6 linked regions of the Homo sapiens genome follow. The protein of the gene in region 5 interacts with the protein of the main gene of each other region in a pairwise test. Each region holds a gene or a part of one and is shown on either strand. Other genes may lie near its edges. The genes, in order: SH2D1A, ATP5F1C, FAM118B, NUDT21, NGEF and HCK.

The links.
Region 1: the proteins of NGEF (region 5) and SH2D1A interact in a two-hybrid assay, tested with the Homo sapiens proteins (one large-scale study listed by BioGRID and IntAct).
Region 2: the proteins of NGEF (region 5) and ATP5F1C interact in a two-hybrid assay, tested with the Homo sapiens proteins (one large-scale study listed by BioGRID and IntAct).
Region 3: the proteins of NGEF (region 5) and FAM118B interact in a two-hybrid assay, tested with the Homo sapiens proteins (one large-scale study listed by BioGRID and IntAct).
Region 4: the proteins of NGEF (region 5) and NUDT21 interact in a two-hybrid assay, tested with the Homo sapiens proteins (one large-scale study listed by BioGRID and IntAct).
Region 6: the proteins of NGEF (region 5) and HCK interact in a two-hybrid assay, tested with the Homo sapiens proteins (one large-scale study listed by BioGRID and IntAct).

Annotation. Positions count from the first base shown.
Region 1 is NC_000023.11:124,352,202-124,357,553, reverse strand, and holds part of SH2D1A (SH2 domain-containing protein 1A), read right to left. Parts: intron 1-5,352.
Region 2 is NC_000010.11:7,798,177-7,801,676, reverse strand, and holds part of ATP5F1C (ATP synthase F(1) complex subunit gamma, mitochondrial isoform L (liver) precursor), read right to left. Parts: intron 2,688-3,500; coding exon 2,483-2,687; intron 2,247-2,482; exon of another isoform or gene 2,176-2,246; intron 1,906-2,175; coding exon 1,762-1,905; intron 1,651-1,761; coding exon 1,586-1,650; intron 1-1,585.
Region 3 is NC_000011.10:126,248,912-126,254,263, reverse strand, and holds part of FAM118B (protein FAM118B), read right to left. Parts: intron 3,759-5,352; coding exon 3,531-3,758; intron 6-3,530; coding exon of another isoform or gene 1-5. UniProt on the Homo sapiens protein: May play a role in Cajal bodies formation.
Region 4 is NC_000016.10:56,441,333-56,444,832, forward strand, and holds part of NUDT21 (cleavage and polyadenylation specificity factor subunit 5), read right to left. Parts: intron 1-3,500. UniProt on the Homo sapiens protein: Component of the cleavage factor Im (CFIm) complex that functions as an activator of the pre-mRNA 3'-end cleavage and polyadenylation processing required for the maturation of pre-mRNA into functional mRNAs.
Region 5 is NC_000002.12:233,009,646-233,015,504, forward strand, and holds the start of NGEF (ephexin-1), read right to left. Parts: upstream 3,612-5,859; 5' UTR 3,423-3,611; exon of another isoform or gene 2,969-3,422; intron 1-2,968. UniProt on the Homo sapiens protein: Acts as a guanine nucleotide exchange factor (GEF) which differentially activates the GTPases RHOA, RAC1 and CDC42. Plays a role in axon guidance regulating ephrin-induced growth cone collapse and dendritic spine morphogenesis.
Region 6 is NC_000020.11:32,085,910-32,091,261, reverse strand, and holds part of HCK (tyrosine-protein kinase HCK), read right to left. Parts: intron 4,635-5,352; coding exon 4,455-4,634; intron 2,695-4,454; coding exon 2,618-2,694; intron 1-2,617. UniProt on the Homo sapiens protein: Non-receptor tyrosine-protein kinase found in hematopoietic cells that transmits signals from cell surface receptors and plays an important role in the regulation of innate immune responses, including neutrophil, monocyte, macrophage and mast cell functions, phagocytosis, cell survival and proliferation, cell adhesion and migration.

The sequences.
Region 1 (5,352 bases), on a different chromosome or scaffold from region 5:
AAAAATTAAAGATAGAACCACCATATGATCCAGCAATCCCACTGCTGGGTATATATCAAAAGGAAATGAAATCATCATGTCAAGGAGAAATCTGCACTTTCATGTATATTGCAGCATTATTCACAATAGCCAAGACATAATGCAATCAACCTACATGTCTATCAACAGATGAATGGATAAAGAAAATATGTTGTATATACACAATGGAATACTATTCAGCCTTAAACACAAAGGAAATCTTGTCATTTGCAACAACATGGATGAATATGGAGGACAGTTTGTAAAGTGAAATAAGCTATGCGCAGAGAAACAAATACCGCGTAGTTTCAGTTATACATGGGATCTTAAAAAGTTGAACTAATACAAGCCAAGAGTAGAATGGTGGGTGGCTACCAGGGGCTCGTAGGGGCGTGCAGGGTGGGGATTGGGAAATTTGGGTCAAAGGATAAAAGATTTAGGTTAGGAGGAAAAAGTTCAAGAGATCTATTGTACAACGTGGCAACTATAGTTAAAAACAATGTATTGTATTCTTGAAAGTTGCTAAGAGAGTAGATTTTAAGTGTTCTCATCACAAAATGTAAGTATGTGAGGTAATGCATATGCTAATTATCCCAATTTAGCTATTACACATGTATACATATTTCAAAGCATCATGTCATACACAATACATATATACAATTTTGCCAGTTTAGAAATAAATATATAAATTAGGGAAAAATAAAGGAATTATAGCAGAAACAATGGTTCAAAATTACACTTTCTATGTCAAAGGTGAAGGTTTACAATGTTAATGCTGGCTGGGCACGATGGCTCACGCCTGTAATCCCAGCACTCTGGGAGGCTGAAGTGGGTGGATCACAAGGTCAGGAGTTCGAGACCAGCCTGGCCAACATGGTGAAACCCTGTCTCTACTAAAAATACAAAACAAACAAACAAAAAACTGCTGGGTGTGGTGGCACGCACCTGTAATCCCAGCCACACAGGAGGCTGAGGCAGGAGAATCGCTTGAGCCTGGAAGGCAGGGGTTGCAGTGAGCTGAGATCACACCACTGCACTCCAGGCTGGGCGACAGAGAGAGACTCCGTCTCAAAAAATATAAATAAATAAATAAACAAATAAAATCTTATGCCAAAATTCAAAAATGTTAGAGTCTTAGGTTTTCCAGAAAACTTTAAGTATGTGGACTATGTTGACATAAAATGATAGCATGTGTAATAGCAAAGACTTGGAACCAACCCAAATGTCCATCAATGATAGACTGGATTAAGAAAATGTGGCACATATACACCATGGAATACTATGCAGCCATAAAAAAGGATGAGTTCATGTCCTTTGTAGGGACATGGATGAAGCTGGAAACGATCATTCTCAGCAAACTATCGCAAGGACAGAAAACCAAACACTGCATGTTCTCACTCATAGGTGGGAATTGAACAATTAGAACACTTGGACACAGGAAGGGGAACATCACACACTGGGGCCTGTCCTGGGGTGGGGGGAGGGATAGCATTAGGAGATATACCTAATGTAAATGATGAGTTAATGGGTGCAGCACACCAACATGGCACATGTATACATATGTAACAAACCTGCACGTTGTGCACATGTACCCTAGAACTTAAAGTATTAAAAAAAACACACACAAAACAAAAAATAAAAATAAAAAAATAAAATGACAGTATGTGTAAAAAGTGGGCACAAGGGGATGCCACTCTGATTACAACTATTCAAAACTGTCTGTCCCTGTGTGTATATAAACTAGAAGTAAATTTAAACTAACGTAAATGCATTCTTGCATGTTATTTTTTCATGTAGTTATTTAAGTGACTAATTTTTTAAGAAAAACAAGCAGAATTACAATTTGGAGCCTTACAAACCTAGCCTAAGCAAATCACAACTCATAAAAATGTAATTCATTTTTTTAAATTGTTACATCCCCTTCAGGATTATATTTCCTCTGACTCCCTCCCTTAATACAGACAAACCAGCAATGTAGTGTACTTTTAACTTCCTTCCCTCATTAAAGCTTTTTTGGACTTTTTGATAATCCTAGAGTTTAAAATGTATCACCAAAAAAATCAGAACATGAATAATTGTTAAAGAACGGTGGAGTTTTATCATTGCCTTTAATTTATTTTAATTACTATAAAGCATGTGTTAATCTAGTCTCTGCTGATATTGAAATTTGTCTTTATTTCATCAAAAGTTGTCCCTAACTGTAAAAAAGTGTCCAGGTTAGAAATGGACAAGAAGCAAGAAGCAACCAACCTGACTTATTTCTTATTTTCTCAGTGGGTCAGTGTTGGGGACAGATCCTGGTTTAGAACTGACAAATCCACATCAATTCCTTTTTTATACCACGTCAAGTACTACACAAAAGAAAACATTTAGCTACATCTGACTTCTTCATGACATTTCAAATAAAGCAAGCCAGTACCTATGCCCTCTACGTCTATACGAACTAATGCTACATACAAAATTCAAGACACAACTATAATGATTTTTAACAAACGTTTCAGAACTTTTATATCCAGAGGAATAGTATCCTACACAAAGCCATTATTTTTGAGACTATACTCTGATTCAAGAGCTTTCCAAACTTACAATGGCCCAAACTTTATTCTTTCAGAGAGAATTTTAATTTTTGAAACAGTTGAAAGTCATTCAACTTCAAGTGTGATGGTAAAACTATGTGATATTTTGATGAGTCATGAAAATAAATATAACCACTTCTTCCCCTGAACTTCCATATCAAGTTTTATTTACGTATACTTATGATGTTCTAACTTTGTATTACAATTATTTATAGAGCTTTTATTCATATTAAAAAACACATATTACATGTTAACTTTACAAATATTAACTCATGTCATAATCATCATAACAACCCTGTGAGGTAAGTACTCTCATTATCACCATCTGCCGTTTTACAGGTAAGAAACCTGAGACACAGAAAGTTAAAGTAACCTGCCCAAGGGAAAATAGCTAGTTAAGGGTCAGAGCTGGGATGCACACCCAGAGATCTGGCTGGAAGATCTGGGCTCTTAACCACCATTCTGTGCTGCCCCTCTCTTATACTAGAGGGAATGTATTAACAAATTGGTCTTTAAGACAATTCCAAAAGCACAATTCTCAAAAAGGGAGGGAATCTGCTTGGACATGGAGCTAGAACTGTCCACTGAGAGAAGGAGGGCAGTGGAGGGAGCTGAAGGGAAGAGGCCAGGTGGGGAGAGCCCGAAAGAGATCAACCCAGACTCCCCCTTTGCTTAAGCTAAATGACATCTTCAGGCTAATCTTGCAACTTTAATTTTACATTGTCAACCAGAGTCAGTACTTGGCTTATTTGCCGTGAATTATCCATTCGGTGGTTTATATGTGGCAAACAATCCTAGGCTGGCTTTCAGGCTCACTTTACCACTGGATTGTATTCAGGAAATTGAAAATAATGTTGGTGGCCTAAGTTATCATGAAGATAAATGTGGCACCAAGGCACATATCCAATTGAATTCAAAAACTAAATGCAAGTTGTAATTTCTCACTAAATGAAGTTAAGTTATAATTTCAAGTTCTTTGCCACACTGTTCCCCTTTATTGCAACTGATAAACTGGAATTTTATTTCATCACTGCTCCTCCCCCATTTCTCCAGTTCAGTTGTTTGACAGGCACTTTATTCCCAGTTGTCCCTTTAAAACTTAAAGGACAAAAAGATAATTATGCATTTATCTAAAGACATACATGTCAAATGACTTCATTATGTGTCCTTGAAGCTAAAGAATTATAACAGCATTTCTTCTTCCAAATCTTCCATCAGATAAGTAGCAAACAAAGGCAGATATGTCCAGAAGGATGCCAACTATGGAAATAAACTATTTTTTGAGCTAATTATTTTAAATATTTTAAATTAGTTCTCGTCTTATCACCATCAATCCCACTGGGCAGTCAGAACTTTCCCAATGGCTGTCTACATTGAGGGTGAGAAGGGAAGAAATGTGAGAGAACATATGTACCTCAGTGAAAAGAAACTTGATGTATCTAAAAAAAACAAAGGGAATAAACTTAAAAAAAAAACTATCTGCATTAATAAGAGCATTCAGTACACTGGATAAATACAAGAACAGAACATAAAATCAGTAGCTTTCCTATGAAACAGAAAATATAGTGGAAACAGATCCCATTTATGATTTTTAAAAATCAGCATACACATTCATACACACAATAACTCGAAATAACAAAAAATGTATAAGACATACAAAAAGAAAACTATAAAACTTGATTGATGGATATAAACAAAAAAATTATAAATGGAGAGACTTATGTTATGGGAAGGGAAGACTAAATTATTTAAAGATGACAATTCATTCTTAGTTTATTAATAAATTTAATGTAACCCCAATGGTGTTTTCAAAAAAATTTTTGATACATAATAATTGTACATATTCATGGGGTACAGTGTGATGTTTCAACACATGTATGCATTGTAATAATCAAATCAGGGGATTTGAATATTTAGGATATTTATCACCTCAAACATTTATCATTTCTATATGTAAGAACATTTCAAGTACTCTCTTCTAGCTATTTCAAAATACATAAGATATTGTTAACTATAGTCACCGTACTGTGCGACTGAACACTAGAACCTATTTCTTCTATCTAACTGTCTGTTTGTACCCATTAGCCAACCTCTCTTCATCGCCTTCCACCCTTCCCAACCTCTGGTAACTATCATTTTACTCTCTATCTCCATATGATTGAGGAATCCCACTACAGGGTATCTATCAAAAGGAAAGGAAATCAATATATCAAAGGGATACTTGCGCCCATACATTTATCACAGTACTATTTACAGTAGCCAAGATATAGAAGAGTCCAGCAACAGATGAATGGATAAAGAAAATGTGCTATGCATATACAATTGAATACTATCTGGCCATTAAAAAGAATGAAATCCTGTTATTTGCAGAAATGTAAATAGAACTGGAAGTCATTATGTGAAGTGAAATAAGCCAGGCACAGAAAGACAAATATCATGTGTTCTCACTGGCATGTGAGAGCTAAAACATTTGGTCCAATGAATTTTTTTTAACTTAATAAAATGATTCTAGATTTCATTTTGAAGAACCAACAGATAAGAATAGCAAATAATTTTTAAAATATATTAAAACATTATCATACTATAGTGCTATCAGTGCAAGAATAAATGGATCAATTGAGACAAATAGATAGTCCAGAAACAGTAACTGTTATATATAAGAATTTAATATATGGTAAAGTCGGCTAGCAAATCAATGAAGAATGGAAGTTGTATTTATAAATTATATTAGGACAATTGCTAGCTATCTGGAAACAAA
Region 2 (3,500 bases), on a different chromosome or scaffold from region 5:
GTGTACAGACTCAGGTCCTGTCCCCAAGATACTGCATTATAAATATGAAAATATTCTGAAATCCCAAACATTTCTGGTCCTAAGCATTCACACAAGGGATACTCAACCTGTGCAGTAATTCCAACTTAGTCATTTGATTACTGAAGAAATCTGAATGTATCAATCTGGAAAATGAGAGAGGGAAAACCTTTCAAAGCACATGAAAGAGTGGGAGAACTAGAAATTGGTATGAATCGTAGTTTTAATGTTGTAGAAATTTAGAAGTACATTTCAAAATTCATTCATTGGGGTCAAGTGGTGACACAGTACTATATATTATCAAAATACTATATTTCATTAAATGGTACTGGTTGTAACACCTACTTTATTTCTCATTAAGAGAGAAAAAAATGTACTCAATTATAAATGATGTTCCATTGGCTGGTAGAGCCATCTCAATTTCAGAAACATTAACGTGTAAAGTACATACTTGAAAATAAATGAAGTATTAGAAAATAGATGGTATATACAAGGGAAAAAAGCCTTAGAAAACTAAAATCAGTTCCAGAATATTATTCCAGGATGCTTCAATGATCAATGATGACTTTATTCCAACAATAAAACAAGAGAATTGAGTCAGTCAATGTAAATTAGCTGTGAACACTGTTCAACTCTCTATTCTAGAGCTTCTGTTTTATTGTAGTTAGAGGTCCCAAACATAACTTGCAAAGCCAGTTTCTAGCTACGCTCTTCAATCCTTGAGGACAAAAAAATCTAATGATGAACCTCAATAGATACTGACTTTTCAATTAATGACAGAATAGAGCAGGAGTTATCAAACAATGACTGAATTAAGTATCATGGAAGTCAAGAGATGGCACTTCTCAGAAACAGCCCCAGATCGGCCGGGTGCAGTGGCTCATGCCTGTAATCCCAGCACTTTGGAAGGCCAAGGCAGGTGGATCACTTGAGGGCAGGAGTTCAAGACCAGCCTGGCGAACACGGTGAAATGCTGTCTCTACTAAAAATACAAAAATTAGCCAGGCGTGGTGGCGTGCACCTGTAATCCCAGCTACTTGGGAGGCTGAGGCAGGAGAACGGCGTGAACCCGGGAGGCGAAGGTTGCAGTGAGCCGAGATCATGCCATTGCACTTCAGCCTGGGTGACACAGTGAGACTCCGTCTCAAAAAATAAAAAATAAAAAAATAAAAGGCTGGGCTCATGCCTGTAATCCCAGCACTTTGGGAGGCCGAGGCGGGTGGATCACGAGGTCAGGAGATTGAGACCATCCTGGCTAACATGGTGAAACCCCGTCTCTACTAAAAATACAAAAAATTAGCCAGGCTTGGTGGCGGGTGCCTGTAGTCCCAGGTACTAGGGAGGCTGAGGCAGGAGAATGGTGTGAACCCAGGAGGCGGAACTTGCAGTGAGCCGAGATGGTGCCACTGCACTCCAGCCTGGGAGGCAGCAAGATTCCATCTAAAAAAGAAACAGCCCCAAATCATTTGCTATAGCTACCACCAGATATCTTGACACTGTCTGCCTTAGTGTACAAATCTCTCCATTCTATATGCCAAAAAATATGTATCATAGAAAAACTACTTACCAGCACTTGCAACGGTATTAAGGGAAAAGATGGGCTTTTCTTCTGTCTTATAGGAGATGACAGACCTAGAATTGACAAAAACAAATGTAAATCTCAAAATAATTTTTAAACTGTTATTTCAAAATATGAACAAAAGCATGAACATAAAAAAGCTTTGATTTCTAAATCTGTCTTGCCTGAATTTATTAAAGATGATGGAGCCTTCATCAAATTCATATCCAGAATTTAGTAATTCAAGGGCAATGACTGACGCATCTCCAAAAGTGGGGGGCTTTCTTCCCACTTCTTTGAATGCCACCAGAAACTGGTCAGAATGAGTCCTATAAGAAAAGCAAGAGCTCACATAGCTAGTTTAATAAGATTTCTGCTGAAAGAGCACAGGGGACAGGCAGGAGAAAACATTGTCACCATGGATCAGGTCTTTTGGGGTATGGGTGGTGGTGATTTCCTGAGTTGTTCCACACACTATCATCATTCCTTTCCTTCAGCACCTGCAAAGAACTAAGAACTAAAAATGAGGTCTGTTTTATATTCTTTTCCCCTTTATTCCTCTCCTTCTAATCCTAATGAACTATTGCTAACATTTCCAGGCTGTAACAGCTCCTCAGATGCCTCATTTGGCTTAATGCTGATAGCTTTTGATATTCACATGGCATTCAACTTATGATCCGGATGAAGAAGCAAAGGTAGAAAACAGGGGAAGGAAAACAGAAATGTTCCAATATATCCTGGAAAAAAGAAAAAGGAAACAAACACCCCCTTGTGAATATACCAAAAAAGGCCCTGAAGAATATACCTTGTTATTGATGAAGGTTTTGAGAGTTTGTCAAAACTTTTGAGAGAAGATTTATTCGTGCTTACATCTTTATGAAAATAAACAATATATATTTAAATTACCTATAAAGTATGCCTCTGATTTTGTCACCAATTCCAACAAGCATAACTTCTTTCCCAGCTGCTGTTAGTGTAGCAACCTCGCTTTTCATCTGTTTAGCAATGGAGGAATGAATAGCACCACACAGTCCTCGATCTGAGGACACACCAATAAGGAGGTGTTTCTTCTTGTCTTCAGGCCCCTTGATATCAGCTTTTTCATACAGAGCTTAAAAACAAACAAAAGCAGTAATTTTTTTATATGCAATACACTAAATACAATAAATCTCTAATTTACAAAGCAGTTGGTTATTTCCAAAATACGCATTTAAATTTAGCTGGCAACTGCCTAGTGTAAGCAGGTGTTCTTAGGACAGCTGTAAGCTGAGGCCGGGCACAGTGGCTCACGCCTGTAATCCCAGCACTTTGGGAGGCCGAGGTGGGCGGATCACCTGAGGTCAGGAGTTTGAGACCGGCCTGGCCAACGTAGTGAAATCCCGTCTCTATTAAAAATATAAAAATTGGCTGGGCACGGTGGCTCACGTCTGTAATCCCAGCACTTTGGGAGGCCAAGGCGGGCGGATCACAAGGTCACGATATCAAGACCACGGTGAAACCCCGTCTCTACTAAAAAATACAAAAAAATTAGCCAGGCGTGGTGGCGGGCGCCTGTAGCCCCAGCTACTTGGGAGGCTGAGGCAGGAGAATGGCGTGAACCCGGGAGGCAGAGCTTGCAGCAAGCTGAGATTATGCCACTGCACTCCATCCCGGGAGACAGAGCTAGACTCCGACTCAGAAAAAAAAAATACAAAAATTAGCCAGGTGTGATGGTGGGGGCCTGTTAATCCCAGCTACTGGGGAGGCTGAGGCAGGAGAATCGCTTGAGCCTGGGAGGGGGAGGTTGTAGTGAGCTGAGATTGCACCATTGCACTCTAGCCTGGGCAACAGAATGAGACTCCATCTCAAAAAAAAACACAAAAAGAAAACAAACAAAAAACAACAACAAAACACACACACACACATAAAAAAACAAAGGACAGCT
Region 3 (5,352 bases), on a different chromosome or scaffold from region 5:
AGCACCTGTTTAAAGGTCACAATGGGCAAGAGGCTGTTTTGAGGACTAGACTTCTGACATAAACTCTCTAGCTTCATGATATAGGACAAGAATGCAAAACCTGATGTGGTCTAAGTTTCCACTTCAGGAATGACTGTCAAGAATGATGGCAACAAATTTGGTGATTTCTCTTTGAAAGTAAGCATCAAAAATCACAATTTGTCATAATTTGCAGAAACAACAGGGACCCTTTGCACTGGTGGCATGCATGAGAGCTATGGACAACTGCTTCAGTGATCGCCCCAAGAAATCAAGCCTCTGTATCCAGGCCCTTGTGTGGCCCCTCTTCGGAGTGACTCCAGGCTAACCACATGGCTTGCTTTTAGCCAATGGGATACTAGCAAACACACACAAGCAGAAGCTTGAAAAGTGTTGGCACAAGAAGTCTTACTTCTCTTGTGTTACTTTTGGAATCCAGCTGCCATGCGAAGAAAGTGAAGAAGCCTGGGCTAGCCTGCTGGGACATATATGGCCTGGCCAATTGCTTGCAGGGAAGTATGGTCCCCTTATATCACTCAGCCCTGGTGCGGCCATCAGATGTCTGCAGGTATGTGAAGAGGGTGCAAAAATCAGCAGAAAAAATGCCTGGCTGAGTCACTGAGCCCAGTTCAAATTGTTAATATACTTTATCATGGGCAGATAAGATATTTGTTGTTACAAGCCACAAAGTTTCACGGCCATTACTTGTACAGCAATAGATAAGTGATAGAAAAATCACTTCAGTCACCTCTGAGGAACCTAAAAGGCTGCCAGCGAAGAACAATCATTTAGACAACAGCGAATGCAATAGCCACCTGATTCCATGGCTCCATTTTCCCAAGGACTGGAGACAGCATACATTTATTCTTATCACATTTTGGAGAAATAGGCTATGAATCAGGAAAGTAGTCAAGAGGCACCGAGATTTAGAATTTGAATGTTACTAGGCCCCATTCTGACTACCAGTCAATGTCTTTAACCATTAGACTGCAACACTGCCCCTAATGTGGGCTGAAAATACAATGCAAATCTTGAGGCCCAAGGATGAAATGAGAAGGAAAACATCAAATGTGATAGATATCCTCAGCTTTTAAAAGGTCCTTATGCTTCTGATATCCATGAACACACTTGGTCATAATCTTTGGAAATTTTATCACAAATAGCATAGAAGCTGCTAGTTTTAAAATTTCAATCATTTGTTTGTTTGTTTTTAGACAGAGTCTTGGTCTGTTGCCCAGATTGGAGCACAGTGGCGCAATCTTGGCTCACTGAAACCTCTGCCTCCTGGGTTCAAATGATTCTCCTGCCTCAGCCTCCCAAGTAACTGGGATTACAGGCGTGCACCACCACTCCCAGCTAGTTTTTGTATTCTTAGTAAAGACGGGGTTTCACCATGTTGGACAGGCTGGTCTCAAAATCCTGACCTCAAGTGATCCACCCACCTCGGCCACCCAAAATGCTGGGATTACAGACGTGAACCACTGTGCCCAGCCTATTTATTTAGAGACATGATCTTATGCTGTCACCCAGGCTGGAGTGCAACAGTGTGATCACAACTCACTGTAGCCTCGACTGCCTCAGCTCAATCGATCGTCCTGCTTCAGCCTCCCAAGTAGCTGGGACCACAGGCAAACACCACCATGCCCGGCTAATTTTTAAACTTTTTGTAGAGATGGGGTCTTGCTATGATGCCCAGGTTGGTCTTGAACTAGGCTCAAGTGATCCTCCCGCCTCAGCTTCCCAAAGTGCTGGGGTTACAGGCCTGAGCTGCTGTGCCCAGCCCAATCATTTATTAATCAAAAAAATATTTACCAAGCACCTAACTGTCATATTTGAGACATGAGGGTTGTATTTGAGTTATGAGGGTAAGAAAGACTAACATGATACCTATCCAAGTGAAGTTACTATTCCTATGGGGTAAACAGTCAGAAAACAGATAAACAGCCAAGATAAAAACTGTGCTGGGTGTGGTGGCTCATGCCTGTAATCCCAGCACTTTGGGAGGCTAAGGTGGGCAGATCACCTGAGGTCAGGAGTTCGAGACCAGCCTGGCCAACATGGTGAAACCCTGTCTCTACTGAAAATACAAAAATTAGCCAGACGTGATGGCGGGTGCCTGTAATCCCAGCTATTCGGGACGCTGAGGCAGGAGAATCGCTTGAACCCAGGAGGAGGAGGTTGCAGTGAGCTGAGATCATGCCATTGCACTTCAGCCTGGGCGACAAGAGCAAAACTCCATCTCAAAACAAAACAAAACAAAACAAAACAAAACGGCCAGGCACATGCCTGTAATCCCAGTACTTTGGGAGGCTGAGGTTAGCAGATCACCTGAGGTCAGGAGTTTGAGACTAGCCTGACCAACATGGAGAAACCCCGTCTCTACCAAAAATACAAAATTAGCCGGGCGTTGTGGCACATGCCTGTAATCCCAGCTACTCAGGAGGGTGAGGCAGGAGAATCACTTGAACCCAGGGCAACAAGAGCGAAACTGTCTCTCAAAAAAAAAAAAAAAAAGCTGCAAGTTAATACTAAGTGCTACAAAGGAAACGGACAAGAGACTGGATAAAAAAAATAAGTATCCAATTTAAATAGGATGGTCAGAGAAGGTCTCTCAGGAGGGGATCCCTAGGTTGAGAGTTATAAATGAAGAAGGAGCTGACCATACAGAATATGAGGGCGTAGGCGGAAGACACTTGGACCAGAGAAAACTAGTCTTCATGGGGCAGCTTTTCTCTAAATTCAATTCCCTTTAAATCCTGCCATCAAGGTCAGCAAAACCACAAGAGTGGTATTTCAGCTACCACTCTGGCAGGGGCAATACTGTAGTACTGAATGCCAGCAGGCAAATCACTTGTCTATTCAACTCTACTTAGTTGGGCTCTAAATTGGACATAAAGGCAGATTCCTGAGGAAAACAAAGTGTAGGAAAAAACATTACAAAAATCACAGAGTAGGACCAATGAGACTTTAAGAACTCATCTCATTAGCTGACACAGATCAACATCTATAATTCAATAATTATGGTAGGTACAGTATAGACTATGCTAAAACAAAGTCTGCTGAGGTTTCCACTAAACATTAACCTCAATTCAGCCATCGCTTGGCCTGGAAGTTGTTCTTCCAATCAGTATAAAGTAGTTTTCATACATTTCCAATAGATGCCATAAAAAAAGGTATCCTAAAATAGAACCAGCATTATCAATATTACACCACTGAATACTGTCAAGTGCTAAAGAGATCTTACAGTTCAAGTGACTTCCTCTAATCTTGCTTTAAAACTGGATGAAATTGTCAAGAGTCATAGAACTGAACACTTTTAAGTTCTATGCATTTTACTGTATATTGATTTGATCTTTAAAAAGAAAGAAAAAAGAAAAACAAAAACTCCAACCAGGGAAAAAATTTTTCCTTTCTAGCTCTACATAAATACCAATATACCAACTAGAAAAGAGCTTTTCTGAGGAAGATAAAATCCACTAGCCTGAAGAAGGGACCAATGCTTTACTTTTTACCTTTTTCTCATCAGTAAGGTCAAGGGATTCAAGCTGTTTCCCCTGATCTGCTGCATACAGTTCCAAGAGATTATCAAAATTTGTAGTTAATACGAGGGCTCCATTTTCCATCAGGTGGAGAACTGACTGAAGTAGCTGTTTTCCAGAATCTTCCATCTTTGACTCCAAGTCATCAAATACTTCATATAAACAGTCCTTGAAAAATGTGGATCGAACATTACTGGTACGCTGAGGAGGGATTTGAAAAAAGAAAATTAGTCCAAAGTGCTTTGGTAGGTCAGTTGTTTTAGTTACAGCAGTAACAAATTTTGGAAGAATATTTTGAATTCAAAACAGAGATAAAGGCCAGGCGCAGTGGCTCACGCCTGTAATCCCAGCACTTTGGGAGACCGAGGCGGGCGGATCACGAGGTCAGGAGATCGAGACCATCCTGGCTAACACGGTGAAACCCCGTCTCTACTAAAAATAAAAAAAATTAGCAGGGCGTGGTGACAGGCGCCTGTAGTCCCAGCTACTTGGGAGGCTGAGGCAGGAGAATGGTGTGAACCCAGGAGGCGGAGCTTGCAGTGAGCCGAGATCGCGTCACTGCACTCCAGCCTGGGCGACGGAGCGAGACTCCATCTCAAAAAAAAAAAAAAAAATCCCGGGGATAAAATATTATCTATCTCATACGAACGTAATAAGGAAGATGAGATGATACATGCCAAGTGCTTAGCACAATGCTTAGCAGATAGCAAGTGCTACTATACGTAAGCTTCCTAAAATAGGCATTTTTATAGAATGAAGAAAATAAACCTGGCCAAGGGATATGAATTTACTGTCGGTATTAAAGGGAAGCTGGGGTACAAAGCAGAGCGACAACTACCCTCTCATGAGGTGCCAGGTAAGAAGGCAACACTTTCCGTTCATCTTGCCTTATGTAGGGAAACGCCACTGAGACACAGCCCTAATTGTGGTTTGGCATCTCCTTTTCTTTTTCTTTTTTTTTTTTTTTTTTTTTTTGAGACGGAGTCTCATTCTGTCACCCAGGCTGGAGTGCAGTGGCGTGATCTCGGCTCACTGCAACCTCCGCCCCGCCAGGTTCAAGCAATTCTCCTGCCTCAGCTTCCCAAGTAGCTGGGATTACAGGCGCCTGCCACTGTGCTCAGCTAATTTTTGTATTTTTAGTAGAGACGGGGTTTCACCATCTTGGCCAGGCTGGTCTTGAACTCCTGACCTTGTGATCCACTCACCTCAGCCTCCCAAAGTGCTGGGATTACAGGTGTGAGCTACCACACCCAGCCTCAGCATCTCCTTTTCTAATCCTAGGTGTTTGTACAGCTGTTTATGAATTTAGGAAAAACTGCTTAACTTCTACATGCCATAATTCAGCAGTTCATAGGTTTATTCTGAAGAATATCCAGTATACAAAAGGTTAACGTAAACAATTTAATACGTTTTTTAAATTAAAAATTTGCATTTTGCAACTGTTGAAAACATCAAACACCAATCAGTTCTAAACAGAATCCCAATGTCTTGTTTTGCAGATGTGAGGTCTGGCTATGTTGTCCAGGTAGGTCTTGAATTCCTGGGATCTCAAGTGATCCTCCCACCTCAGCCTCCCAAAGTGTTGGGATTATGGGTATCAGCCACTTTTCCAGACCTCCTACTTCTTAACATACGGCTTACTTAAATAACTGCTTTTCAGATTCATTTTGAATACATGTAAATATCCCTGAGTACTAATGAGGAACTATAATACCAACTTCAGGTGGGAAACTGGCTTTACAACTGAAAAGACAAAGTGGCTCTTGGGACGAAGGGAATTTGAAATGGGAAAGTA
Region 4 (3,500 bases), on a different chromosome or scaffold from region 5:
TCCAAGCGACTCCCCTGCCTCAGCCTCCCGAGTAGCTGGGACCACAGGTGCCCGCCACCACACCCAGCTTTTTTGTATTTTTAGTAGAGACAGGGTTTCACCATGTTGGCCAGGATGGTCTCGATCTTTTGACCTTGTGATCCACCTGCCTCGGCCTCCCAAAGTGCTGGGATTACTGGCGTGAGCCACTGCGCCTGGCCTCTTGATTTTCATTTTAAAAACATTTTTTAAAAGCCTATAACCCTCTACTATGAATGAGAATTTAGATATTAAAATCACACATCCTAGTTACACTTTTTCTTCCACCATCTTCCCATTATCAATATTTGGTTAAGTCAATATTCAGTATTTAAGTTAGTATGATCCGGTAGATCAGTCACAACAGAGCAATGATTAGCAAACCGTATCTCCTTACTTGTTCAACTGTCCTATTCTTTAGTTAATAACTTTCATTTCCTTTGCTATCACTAAATTCATTTCCCACATTCTCCATGATAACTTAAATTTCTTCCCAATTCAAATATCAATTGTCAGTTATTCTATTAATTTCATCTTTTCTAAGACATGTTTTTCCTTTTTTCAAGACAAGATCTGTCACCCAGGCTGGAGCGCAATGGCGCGATCTCCACTCACTGCAACCTCCACCTCATGGGTTCAAGCGCTTCTCTCACCTCAGCCTCCCCTGCCCCCAGCCTCCCGAGTAGCTGGGACTACAGATGCAAGCCACAGCACCAGGCTAATTTTTCACCATGTTGCCAAGGGTGGTCTCAAACTCCTAGGCTCACGTGATCTGCCCATCTCAGCCTCCCAAAGTGCTGAAATTGCAGGCATGAGCCACCACACCCAGCCTAAGACACGTTTTTCTATCATCCTGCTGTAATCTGTACTTGATAGTCTCAACCCTGCTTCACAGCTGGAGTCCTTATTTTATTCCATTTTGGGGGTGAACACCCTCTAGTAGCTTCCTGAGAAAAGGTACAAGAGATGTAACTTTTTGAAACTCTGCATGTCTAGAAGTAACTTTTACCCACACACTTGATTTATAGTTTGATTAGAAAATTCTAGGACAGAGATTATATTCTCTCAAAATTACAAAGACAACACTCCACCATCCCTTAGCTTCCAGAATTATTTCTGGGTAGTTTAATGCAATTTCTGATTTTGATGTTTTGCATTTAACCTCTCTGCTTACCAATCCTCCACCTCCCACTTTGGAAGCTTTTACATCTTTTTGTTTTTATTTTCGTTTGTAGGATCTAAAACGTCATGATGATATGCCTTTGCGTGGATCTTTAAACATTCACTATAGAGGCAAGGCCAGTAGGTCTTCTCAATCTCAAAACTCATGCCCTTTGAGGTTTGAGAAATTTTCTCTAATTATGCTTTGCTAATTCTTCCTTTTACTCTGTTCTATTTATCTATAGTTTATATTGGTCCTTCTAGAATGACCCACTAATTTTATCTATTCTTACCTACATTCTATCTTTTTATCTTTTCATTCTATTTTCTGGTAGAATGAACCTCTTAACTCTTTACTGAATTTTTCATTTCTTCCAACATTTTTTTAATATCCATGAGGTTTTTCTTGGCTAAAATGTCTTTTTAATAGCACTGTTTCACAGGTGCAAAATCTCCTCTCATCTCACCAAGAATATTAATCATAGTTTTGTCAATGGTTGAATTTTCTGCTTCTGTTGAGGTCCTTTTGCTTCTTTTGATCTTTTTCTTGTTAAGAAGTTTTCTCCAAAAGCCTGGTGATAGTTGGTTGTGTACTCACAAGGGAGAAGCAACAAGATGCTTAATTGTCACCTCTGTGTGCATGAGTGATAGGACTACAATATTTTTTTTTCTTTTTTTTTTTTGAGACGAAGTCTTGCTCTGTTGCCCAGGCTGGCGTGCAGTGGCATGATCTTGGCTCACTGCAACCTCCACCTCCTGGGTTCAACTGATTCTCCTGCCTCAGCCTCCCGAGTAGCTGGGATTACAGGCACCCGCCACCACGCCCAGCTAATTTGTTTATGTTTGTAGAGACGGGGTTTCACCATGCTGGTCAGGCTGGTCTCAAACTCCAGACCTCATGATCCACCCGCCTTGGCCTCCCCAAGTGCTGGGATTACAGGTGTGAGCCACCGCGCCTGGCCCAGGACTACATTATTTCTATAGAAAATTCTTGCTTTGGTTTGGATATGGTTTGTCTCCCTGCCCCCAAACTCATGTTGAAATTTGATCCCCAATGTGACAGTGTTGGCAGGCAGGGCCTAGTGGAAGGTGTTTGAGTCATGCAGGTGGATCCTTCATGAATAGTTTAATACCCTTCCTCCATCAGGAATGGATTAGTTCCCTGGAGAGAGGGTTGTTAAAGAGTGTGGCTTCCTGGATTCACTCTTGCTTCCTCCCTTGCCATGTCTCTTTGCACATGCCCACTCCCATTTTGCTTTCTGCCATGAGTGGAAGCACCATGAAGCCCTCACCAGCTGCCCAATCTTGCCACCAGAACTGGTGAGCCAAATAAATCTTTTTCTTTATAAATTACCCAGCCTCAGGTATTCTGTTATAGCAACATTAAACAGACGAAGACAGCTCCCAAATGGCAGTATCTGAAGTTTTTCTTGGACTGGTCACTTTTTCCAGAAACAAGAATTCCAACCCTCAGCCTGGGATATATAAATCTAATTGTTGGCTGGGCCTGGTGGCTCATGCATGTAATCCCAATGCTTTGGGAGGACTGCTTCAGGCCAGGAGTTTGAGACCAGCCTGGGCAACATAGCACGATCTCATCTCTATAAAAAACTTTTCTTTAATTAGCCAGGCATCATGGGCACATACCTGCAGTCCTAGCTACTCAGGAAGCTGAGGCAGGAAGATTGCTTGAGCCCAGGAGTTTGTGGTTACAGTGAGCTATGATCACACCACCATCCTCCAGCCTGAGGAACAGAGTGAGACCCTGTCTCTAAAAAAAATAAGTAAGCCTAGACTGACAGTGGCTCACACCTGTAATCCCAACACTTTGGGAGGCCAAAGCAGGCAGATCACCTGAGGTCAGGAGTTCGAGACCAACCTGGCCGACACGGTGAAACCCCATCTCTACTAAAAATATAAAAATTAGCTGGGCATGGTAGTGGGCACCTGTAATCCCAGCTACTCTGGAGGCTGAGGCAGGAGAATCGCTTGAACCCAGGAGGCAGAGGTTGCAGTGAGCAACCATTGCTCACATTGGAGATCACGCCACTGCACTCCAGCCTGGGCGACAAGAGTGAAACTCCGCCTCAAAAAAAAAAAAACAAAAACAAAAAAAAAAAAAAACAAGCCTAATTGTTAACATTCTGTCAGCCTAATAGAGGTCCAAGAGTCTGACTATTCAGAATAGGAACTCTTATTCTCCCCATCCCCTAAACTTTTTTCATTGCTAGTTGTTCTCTGATTCAATTACTACAGAGAATCATCAGCCAGTCTTTGCCTAATTACAGAGTGGGGAAGACAATCTAGATACACAGGTTGAA
Region 5 (5,859 bases):
AAAAAGTAAAACTCCTGGATGATTGGAGGTCAGAGCTTCTAGCTTTGGGAGACATGGTGCTGGTGCATGAAGCTCCAGCCCAAAGTGAAGGCAACTGAGGCACAGCCACCAGGTGCAGGGTGCAGAAGTGAGGGATGAATTTCCCATGGGACACGCTGGCCATCCAGACCCCCACTCTCATCTCTGTGGACCTCTGGGGTCCTGGCATCTTGGGTTGGGCCATCCCCTCCACCTTCCCTCCACTCCACCTGTCCTGTCTCTCTTTTTTTGAATTGGAGTCTTCCTCTTGTCACCTTGCCTGTAGTGCAATGGCGTGAACTTGGCTCACTGCAACCTCTGCCTCCTGGGTTCAAGCCATTCTCCTGCCTCAGCCTCCTGAGTAGCTGCGATTACAGGGGTCCACCACCATGCCAATTTTTGTATTTTTAGTAGAGATGGGGTTTCACTATGTTGACCAGACTGGTCTTGAACTTCTGACCTCTGGTAATCCATGCGCCTCAGCCTCCCAAAGTGCTGGGATTACAGGTGTGAGCCAGCACGCCCAGCTGGCATCTTTTAAACAGACCTCATGCCTCCCCTGTCTCTGCCTCCACTGGCCCAACCCTTACTGCAGGGCTCCCTCCCTTTTGCTAAAACCCTGCTGTCCCTTCACCTGGAATGTGCTATCTGTGAACGTATGCTATTTAGAGAACCTGGAGCATTCATTCTGAGTGAGTGTGAAAAGAATTACTACCTTATTTTCAAGGTAGTAATGCTTGCTTTATAATACATCAAACCACACCCCCAGTTCTTCTCCTCCTCCTGGAAAATCATTAATAAGTGATGGAAGATTGTTGAATGATGGCCAGCTCAGAGGCCACCTCCTCCATGCAGGCCTTGCTGATCATCCATCCCTTTGATGGTGCCCATCCTCCTCATTTGAACGTGTGATTTTTTTTTTTCCTTGTCCACAGGCAAAGTGAGTTGAGGCAGGAAGATTGTGAGATGGCCTCACCCAGGCTCCCAGGTCCTTAATCAACCACCTGAGCTAGTTTCCCAAAAGCAGCCCACAGAGGGTGCTCCAGCAAATGGCCCCTCCTCAGTGCTCAGACCCCATGTGGTCTCCCACGGCCCTGGCCTCCAGGATGGCTGCCAAACAAAGGGAGGAGGAGTAAGGCTGAAGTCCTCAGCCTTCTGGGGTGGGTCCTCCAGTCTGGAGGCAGAATTCCACCCCCTGGTCTGACCTCTCCCAAGGTGGGGAGAGGTGGTCCCAGGCCAAGGGAAGGAATTTTTCCTGAGGCCCAGCAGCCTCCTGAAGACACCATCATGGTAGCAGAGGGGGCTTAGGTGCGGGGAGAAGGGGGGTCTGAAAAGAGGCAGCCCATCCAGGCTCAGAGATGGAACCCCCTGCTCCGCTGGGCCACGGTGCCTCTCAGCCTCAGGATCCTATCACCGTTGTTGGGGTGAGAGGGCTGGTGTGCTCTTTTCACCAAGCGGGGTTTCTGGCCTGGCCTCGGGGGTGTGGGACACAGCATCGCTTCATCTCCACTAGCCTGAGGGCCACCATTGTCCCATCTGTGTCCCCAGCCCCACTTCAAAGCCTCACACATACACTGTGCACAGCAATTATCTATGAAGGAGTAAAGGAATTTTTGCCATTGGGGTTGTGCTGGGGGGTGACTTCAGAGCATCAGAGCTGACTCCTTACTCGGGAAGCAATGGGCCCATGTAGATGGGGAAGGGACGTCATCTTGGGAGACGGGATGTCCGACTTGGTGCTGGTGGCTCACCAGCTTCTTGGGACAAACAGCAGCTCCTGCGCCCCTGGTAGAGCCAGCAGGCTTGGGTGGTTAGGTTTGGTCTCCTCTGAGAGGCTCTGGGTGGCCCCACAACATCTGGGCTATTTTGTTACTGGTACAAGCTTCCGGTCTCCCACAGGCCAAGGGAAGTTCTTAAAGCAATGAAAAAAAAAAAAAAAAAGGAACAGAGACAGAGTCTTGCCAGGTTGCCCAGGTTGGAATGCAGTGATATGATCATAGCCCACCGCATGACTTCTGGGCTCAAGCAGCCCTCCTGCCTCTGCCTCCTGAGTGGCTGAGACTACAGGCATGCATCAGCTCTTCTTAAAGCAATTCATCTTCCCCCATGTCTAGCCTCATCTGTGTCCCCAGCCCCACTGGGGCAGAAAGCTGTGGAATGTTACTCACACTGTCATTGGATCAACCCCTGGCTTTCCTGTGGGGATCCCCTCCCTGGGAGGGGTTCCCATGACAATTTGGGCTCCAGAAAGGGATGTGGGAGGAGAGTGCGGTGGAGGGAGGTGGTCTGTGGTCTCCCTTCATGGACCAGAAAGCTTGACCCCCAAGGGGACCCTGGCTTCTACTTCCTCAGAGCTAAGCAGTGCCAAGGGGCAGCCTGAGACATGGGCAAAGGGGAAGCCTAAATGGAAAAAGAGAGAGAGAGAGAGAGAAAGAGAGAAGGGGCAGGGAGGACAAAGACACATGGCAAGTGTCCAAGCTGGAACATTCCCACCAGTGGCCTTATTGCATTAAGGATTTTCCCAAAAAGCAGAAATACACTGATAGTCAATGGAACATAGCAGAGCTGTCACGAGCCCAGGAAACACAAGTCCCACCTCTACACAGCCAGAGACTGTGTGACTGTCCCAAATTTTAAATCAAGATAGACAATAAGAACCTACCACTTTCACATCCAAGAAAACTGTGTCCCTACACATTTCAGTCACACCGTGCTGTGGCTTGAGGCCAGCCAGATGCAAAAATCAGGAAGGTTCTGAGGGGTAGGGCCTTCTGTCTTTCTGAAAGGGGCCCCTGAGCGGAGGGGGCAGTGCTGGGGGAGCTAAAGCGCAGTGGGCTGTCACTTCACGACTATGACTTCTGTTTCCCAAGTGCACTTCCTGACCCTGAGATTTGTGCCATGGCACACAGGAATCAGGGCACTTCCGTTTACATATACGCTCATTATCAGGACTGGCGTCGTGGGTGTGGGGCCTGGGCAGTCACAGGGCCCTGTTCTTAGAAGGTGCCCCGGCTTGCTTTAATGCTGTGTTGTTGTCCTTTTGAAAGCCTTACTATTTTAACAAGGGGCCCTGCATTTTTATATTGCACAGGGCCCTGCAATTATGCAGCCATTCCTGCTTTTGATCTCACTTACCCCACAGCCATAATGGAAGAGCGCCTGGAAGGAGTCCTTATCCTGATTCCCAGATGGTGAAACTGAGTGCCAGGAGGGGCAGTGCTGAAGCCGAGACCAGACAGGATCCCTCGGGTGGAATCCAGGGCTGCTGTTTCTCTTGGGGGCTCCTCCTCAGTGAATGGATGGGTGGTAATCTCCTTTCCTACCTGTCCTAGCGGTAGCCTCTGTTCCTTCTCTTGTTTTATCTCATTTTATTTTTTTAAAAAATACCAAAACCATTCTCTCACCTGCCAGAGAGGAGCTCATAGGAGTTGGGCTTCCTCAGAGAGTGTTCCTCCCTCGTCCCCTGTCCTGTCCAGGCACCTGCGAGCAGGATGGTGTGTCCCCGGCTAAATCCACAGGCGCTCCACTCTGTCCCAGAGAGCCCACAGCCAAAAACTTCGTCCTGTCCTGGAAAAGCTTCACTGGTAAGCATTCCCGACCTTTAGACCTGCCTTGGCCCATAGCTGGCCACGAGCCCATAACGATCACTTCCCGGCTGGGTGTTTACCTTCCTGGGCCCCATGGGTTGAGCCAGGGTGGCAGCCACATACCTGACACAAAAGTGGTGCAGGAGGGAAGGGCTATCTGAGGGGAAGGCTGGGCATGGCTGGAATACCCGCCGCCCGCCCAGTGCAAGATAATGCTGATGGTCACACCAAGAGGGGCCCGTGGCTCAGCTGGCCCACCAACCCCAAGCATTGGCCAAGCCAGCTGCACGGCCCTCAAATCTGAGATTTGGGAGAGGCTTTGGGGTCCTCCAGGGTTCTAGTCACTTCCTGCCATGGCCATCTGGCCTTAACTCAATCACTTCCAGGCATGGAACACTCACTGCTTTGTAAGGCATCTTGCTCCATTATTATTATTATTATTATTATTATTATTATTATTATTATTCCCTCTAATAGCTTCCTTTAATCCAGTGCTTACTACATGACAGGCACTGGGCTAAGTACATTACATAATCTATGTAATCCTTGTGTTGTCACTATGACCAGAGAATCATGCCCATTTTAAAGATGCAGAAACAGAGGCTCAAGAAATTGATCATCTTGCTCAAAGCCCCACAGCTAGTAAGTTGGGGATCCAGGATTCAAACCCAAGCCAACTAGTATCAAAACCACTACCATCATTTGCCAAGTTTAATTGCTACATCATCCATCTTTATATAAAACTCAAATCAGCGTTTGTTTTAGCTATCTGTTCTGGAAACAAATTAACTCAAAGTGTGTGGCTTGAAATAACACTCATTTGTCATCTCAGTTTCTGTGGCTAGAAGTCTGGGCACTGCTTGGCTGGGTTCTCTGCTCAGGGTTTCTCATAAGTTGCCATCCAAGTGTTGGAGGGGCTGAGGTCTCATCTCATGGCTCCACTAGGGGGGATCCACTTCCAAGCTGCTGGTGTTGGCAGGATTCAGTTTCTTAGGGCTGTAGGATGAAGGCCTCAGCCCCTCTCAGCTGTCAGCTGTGGCCACTATCAGTCCTTTGCCATGTGGGCCTCTCCGCCCTGGCAGCTCGTTGCATCAGAGAGGGCTATGGAGAGAGTCTGGGAAGAGGTAGGTCAGTCTTTTGTAATATACTCAAGGATGTGATATTCCATCACTTCTGGCATATTCTACTCGTTAGAAGGAAGTCATCAGGCACAGCCTACACTCAAAGGTAGGGGATTACACAGGGCACAATACCAGGGGTGGGGGTCCCTGAGGGCCATCTTTGAAAGTTCCCACAGCCATCTGATTGCCACAAAACATGGGTTTCAGTTTTGTCCCTGAAAGCCAGATTGAAGTAGTCTCTCATCTATTCTCTCACCCATCCATCCACCCATCCACCCATCCATCCACCCATCCACCCATCCATCCGTCCATCCATCCATCCACCATCCATCCACCCATCCATCCATCATCCACCCATCCACCCATCCATCCACCCATCCATCCATCCATTATCCACCCATCCACCCATCCATCCACCCATCCACACTTCCATCCACCCACCCATCCATCCACCCACCCTTCCATCCATCCATCCACCCACCATCTATCCATCCAACCATCCATCCATCCATCCATCCATCCATCCATCCATCCATCCATCCACCCAACCATCTACTCATCCATTCATCCACCCACTCATCCACCCATTCATCTACCCAACCATCTACTCATCCATTCATCCACCCACTCATCCACCCATTCATCTACCCATCCATCTACTCAACTACCCATCCACCCACCCATTCATCCATCCACCCATCCATCTATCCACCCATCCACCCATCCATCTATCCACCCATCCACCCATCCATCTATCCACCCATCCATCCACCATCCATCCATCCACCATCCATCCCTTCACCCATCCATCCATCCACCCACCATCTATCCATCCATCCACCCACCCATCCACCCACCAATCCACCCACCCACCTACTCATCCATTCATCCACCCACTCATCCACACATCCACCCACTTATCCACACATCCATCTACCCATCCATCTACTCATCCACCCATCCACCCACCCATTCATCCATCCACCCATCCACCCATCCAGTCATCCACCCATCCATCCACCCATCCACCCATCCATCTATCCATCCACCATCCATCCATCCACTCATCCACTTACCCATATATCCATCCAGCCATCCATCCACCCATCCACCCATCCATCTATCCATCCACC
Region 6 (5,352 bases), on a different chromosome or scaffold from region 5:
GGAGCAAGGACTAATGCTGGTAGTTACCACTGTTTGATGCTCACTGGCAGATGCTCATATGCTACTGATTTTCACAGGAGCTCGATGGGGCAGGGATGACACCCCACTTAGGAGACAGCAGAGGGTAATAGCTAAATGGCTCTGGAGCTGGACCAACTCAGCTTGAGCGCTGCAGCTCTGTGATGTCAAGCAAGTTGTGTCATCTCTCTGTACCTCACTTTTCTTCTCTGTAATAGCACCTGGTTCCAAGGGGTCATGTGAAGATGAATCCCCTAAGCCTACATCAAGGGCTTAGTAGAGTGTTTGGCACATAGTTAAGTATTTATTTAAAGAGTGGCTCCCAGTGCTCCCAGTGGGGGAAAGTGGCACTCAGAGAGGTTAAGCAACTTGCTTGAGGCTACACAGGCAGAGCTGAGATCAAAACAAAACTCTGTGTGACTCCTAAGCCCAGATGCTAATAGTGTTGCTTCTCCAGGGTCTGCTGACTGAATGAATAACGAGTAGGTTTATTGGGCCCAGGTGTAAGCACTGCGGGTTGATAAAGGCGGTGAGATTTCATGACCCCCAGATAGGGTGCCATGAGGTTGGGCACCCTTGGGTTTGCTTCCAAAGAGTATCAGGGAGTCACAGCATCAGAGCTGGAAGGACCTGTAGAGCTCTTCCAACTGAATCCTATGGATGCCTCAAGGTTATATGGGGGTGGGGGAGACAAAAGAAAGGCCACAGATAAGCCCCCCACCCTGCTTCAGTCAGAGCAGCTCTGTTTTGACCTGTTTGTATATATGCAGCTACTGAATAACATTTCATGTCACCCACAAAGCTGTGACTACAGAAACCCCACATGTGTGGTCCAGTTCTCCACCTGCTGCTCCAAGCTGCCTCTCTGAGTCTGGAGGTGAAGACCAAAGCCCCAGGTGGGCTCCTTTCTGTCCCTGGGCTCTGAATCTACCTCTGCTTCTGGACAGATGAAGGCCCAGAACCTCTTTTCCTCCCTTGGTTTGTTTTCCCCTCTGTGAAACGGGCAGAGTGGCTCTTGCCCTGGTCGGTGACTGCTGCCCAGCAGGGCTTCTGCTAGTTTGAAGATGATAATTTAGCAACAGACCAGTCTATTGTCTCCCAGAGGACCTGGCCCATAGGAGTGAAAACACATTTCCATATGCCTCTGGCATTCCAGGCTCTGAAAGTAGAGTCTTTTGTTACACTTTGTGGTGTCCTCTGGGCCCCTGAATTTGCATACTCAAATGAGCCCTGCCCTTGGCATCTCCAGCAGGCCCAGCTGAGGCCCAGGCAGGGTCTCACTCAACTCCCACTATCCCTGGGCTCCTGCTGAGTAGGCTGAACTCCTTCACCTACTTTTGCACAGGCTGTTTCTTTTGTCTAAAAGACCTTTACCTTTTCTCTTCATCTACTGAACTTCTATTCATCCTTCAGGCTCGGCCTAGAGGCCACTTCCTCCAGGAAGCATTCTCTGATTGCTCCTGGACCAGGCTAAATGCTCTAGCTATGCACTCTAATACCACCCCGTCCTTACACTCTGTTTTCCCAGACATCAGAGAGAGCATGAGAGAGGACAGAAGTGAAAAAACTGCTTAGGCTGGGGGTGAGAGGAGCTGCAAGGGGCGTGGGGAACATGAGAAAGAAAATTAGGTTTTCAGCAGTGTTTTTGCGATTTGTGAACATTATTTACTTTGTTAGATACTGTGCTCTTTTGACTCAGCCAGGACCACTTGGGTCATGGTCTCTAAGAGATTTGGTTATTTAATACTCATCTTCCCACCTGGATTGTGAACTCTATTAGGACAGGAACATTTTCATTTTGTTCACTGCTATATCCCCCATAATTAGCACAGTAACTTGTGCAAGCCACTTAACCACACTGGGGCTCAGTTTCCACATCTGTACTTTACTTCTGCTCTATGCTTCAATTTCCTATTCTGTAAAATGGGATGATAATTACCTACTCTGTGGCCAGACTGTTACATTGAGGGGGTCCCTGGGATTTGTGTCCTTGGTCAGTCCCCTCCCACACTGATTCTGGGCATGGCTATGTGACTTGGCCAATGGGCCATTAGCAAGCCTGATGCAGGCAGAGGCTTAATGAGAGCCTGCTCATGAAGGCTTGGCCCCTGGTCCAGCTCTGTCTTGGAACCCAGCTGCTGCGCCGTGAAGAAGCTCAGGCTGGGTGATTGGGTGGTGAGGGGCTATGTGGAGAGACCCTGGAGGCTGAGCCATGTCTTGGACATTCTAGCCTGGGCAAGTGCCAACATCTGCACCTCACTTTACCATGACGAGCAGAAGAACCACCCAGCTGAACCCAGGCAACCCACAGGATCATGAGAAATAACAATTGCTGTTGTTTCAAGCTACTAGGACTTGGATGGTTTGTTATACCAAAATAGATAACAAAAATCCCAGCCTATAAAGCTTATAGGATGATTAAATGAATGAGTACATGTATAATAAAATATATGCAAAAAACATAGTTTTATACTGAGCTCTCAATACATTTTACCCATTATTATTACTGCTATCATCATAGTATGTGGTCAGTAAATATTTGGCAAGTAAAAAAATCGAATTCCTGTTTCCCTTCCCCGTTTCCTCGTTAGGCTCTCACCTGGGCTGAGAAGTCAATGAGTTTTGGCAATGGCTGCTTGCTGCCCTCATCACTTTTCAGAAAGTCCAGCAAGCTTCCTATATGGGGGAGAGGGGAGGAACATTTACTACTTTTACTATTTAATGGCAAAAACCACAATTACTTTTGCACCAATCTAGTACTTTAGTGTGTGGTGAAGATTTTTCATAGTAGTAGATTTAAATACGAATATTTGTTTGCAATTCCTAGTGTTTGAGAAAGAGAATTGAGTTTTAGTGAAGTGACTTTTTGATTGCTAGATGGATTCTGTGACTGAGACAGCCCCTGAGCCTGGATGGCTGGGATCATGCCTTCACAGGACTGGCATAATTGCATAGTTAAAATGAAAAAGGCTTGAGGTTTCAAATCGCACTAAATGGGATTGCATGAGATGATTCTGTTTATCAAAAAATGGGCAGAGTGGCTAGGCACGAGGCTCACTCCTGTAATTCCAACACTTTAGGAGACCGAGGTGAGAGGATCACCTGAGGCCAAGAGTTTGAGACCAGCCTGGGCAACATCGCAAGACCCCATCTATAGAAGAAATTTACAAATATATATGTTAGGCCAGGCTCAGTGGTTCATGCCTATAATCCCAAAGCTTTGGGAGGATCAGTTGAACCCAGGAGTTTGAGACCAGCTGGGGCAAGATGGCGAGACCTTGTCTCTAGAAAAAAATTTTAGAAGCTGGGCGCAGTTGCTCACGCCTGTAATTCCAGCATGGTGGGAGGCTGAGGCGGGCGGATCACAAGGTCAGGAGATTGAGACCATCCTGGCTAACACGGTGAAACACCGTCTCTACTAAAAATACAAAAAAATTGGCCAGGCATGGTGGCAGGCACCTGTAGTCCCAGCTACTTGGGAGGCTGAGGCAGGAGAATGGCGTGAACCTGGTAGGTGGAGCTTGCATTGAGCCGAGATTGTGCCACTGCACTCCAGCCTGGGAAACAGAGTGAGACTCTGTCTCAAAAAAAAAAAAAATTTTTTTAGAAATTAGCTGGGTGTGGTAGTGCATGCCTGTAGTGCCAGCTACTGGGGAGACTAAGTCGGGAGGATCCTGGAGCCTGAGAGTTTGAGGCTACAGTGAACTATGATCACGCCACTGCACTCCAGCCTGGGTAGGCAGAGGGCAACCCTGTCTCTAAAAATAAATATGTAAATAAATAAATAAAATTAGCTGAGTGTGGTGGCATGGGCCTGTGGTCCCAGCCACTCGGGGGGCTGGGGTGGGAGGATCACTTGAGCCCAGGAGTTATGATTGCACCTCTGCACTCCAGCCTGAGTAACAGAGCAAGTTCCTGTCCCTAAAAAACAAACAAACAAAAAATGGCAGGGGTTGAAAATGGTTGTGAAACAGTGGCCTAAAAAAATTCCCCAAGAAATCCTGAGTTGTGGCAGGGCGGGGGTGGGGGCAGAACTGCTGCTTTGCCAGCTCCCTCTCCCAGGGCTTTGGCAAGTACAGGGAAGGTGGCTGATGCGGGAGAGTGGCACCCCCACCACCCATGCCACACCCTGGCCTCTAAGGCTCACTGTGAACCATAAGCCCCTTCTCCCATTGCCCAGGAGTATTCTGGCCCCATTCCCTTCTCCTGGTAGCCCCTTGTTCTCCCTTCCCCTTGGTGACCCCTTAACATGATTTCACCCCACTAACCAGGAGGGCTGGATTGTTCCACATTAGATTCTCAATGAGTACTTGTTGGAAGAGCTCCTGGCCAGATTGGGGCCATCTCAAGGGCAAGAACCATGTCCAAGCCACCCTTGGGCCCGCAATTGACCAGTATAGGCCACAGCCTGCACCCCCAGCCCCAGCACGCAGCACCTTTGGCCATGAACTCCGTGATGATGTAGATGGGCTCCTTGGTGACCACCGCATGAAGTTTGACCAGCTTGTCATGCTGCAGAGTTTTCATCACGTTGGCCTCTGCCAGGAAGGCCTCCACCGACATGCTCCCTGGCTTCATCGTCTTCACTGCCACCTTGGTGTGCTTGTTGTAGGTGGCTGGAGGGGGATAGAGAGCAGGGAAGGTGGTCAGAGCCCACTGGTCTCCCGTACCACCCTAGAAGGCCCAGCTGCAGACCCGCCTCCTCCAGAAAGTCTTTCCTGCTCATCTCAACTCTCAGAGAGGGAAGCGAAATCATGGGCTTAGGCCTCAGACAACTGTGGGTTGAAAGGCGGGTTCACCACTTCCCAGCTGTGCACACTAGGGCAAGTGGCTTAACGTCTCTGAGCCGTGGCTTCCTCAGCTTCCTCATCTGTAAAGTGGAAATGGTAAGCTTTGCCTTTGAAGTGCTGTTGCAAGGATTTAAAAATAGCTCTAAGTGGCTCACGCCTGTAATCTCAGCACTTTGGGGGGCCGAGGTGGGCGGATCACAAGGTCAGGAGATCGAGACCATCCTGGCTAACACGGTGAAACCCCGTCTCTACTAAAAATACAAAAAATTAGCCAGGCGCAGTTGTGGGCGCCTGTAGTCCCAGCTACTGGGGAGGCTGAGGCAGGAGAATGGTGTGAACCCAGGAGACGGAGCTTGCAGTGAGCCAAGATTGAGCCACTGCACTCCAGCCTGGGTGACAGAGCGAGACTCTGTCTCAAACAAACAAACAAACAAAAAACCCAAACAAATAAAAATAGCTTTAAAACACTACTCAGGTTATGTCACACACATACACCGCCCACTTTAATCTTAACACTGCTCTTAAATAAATGCCAGACTTACTA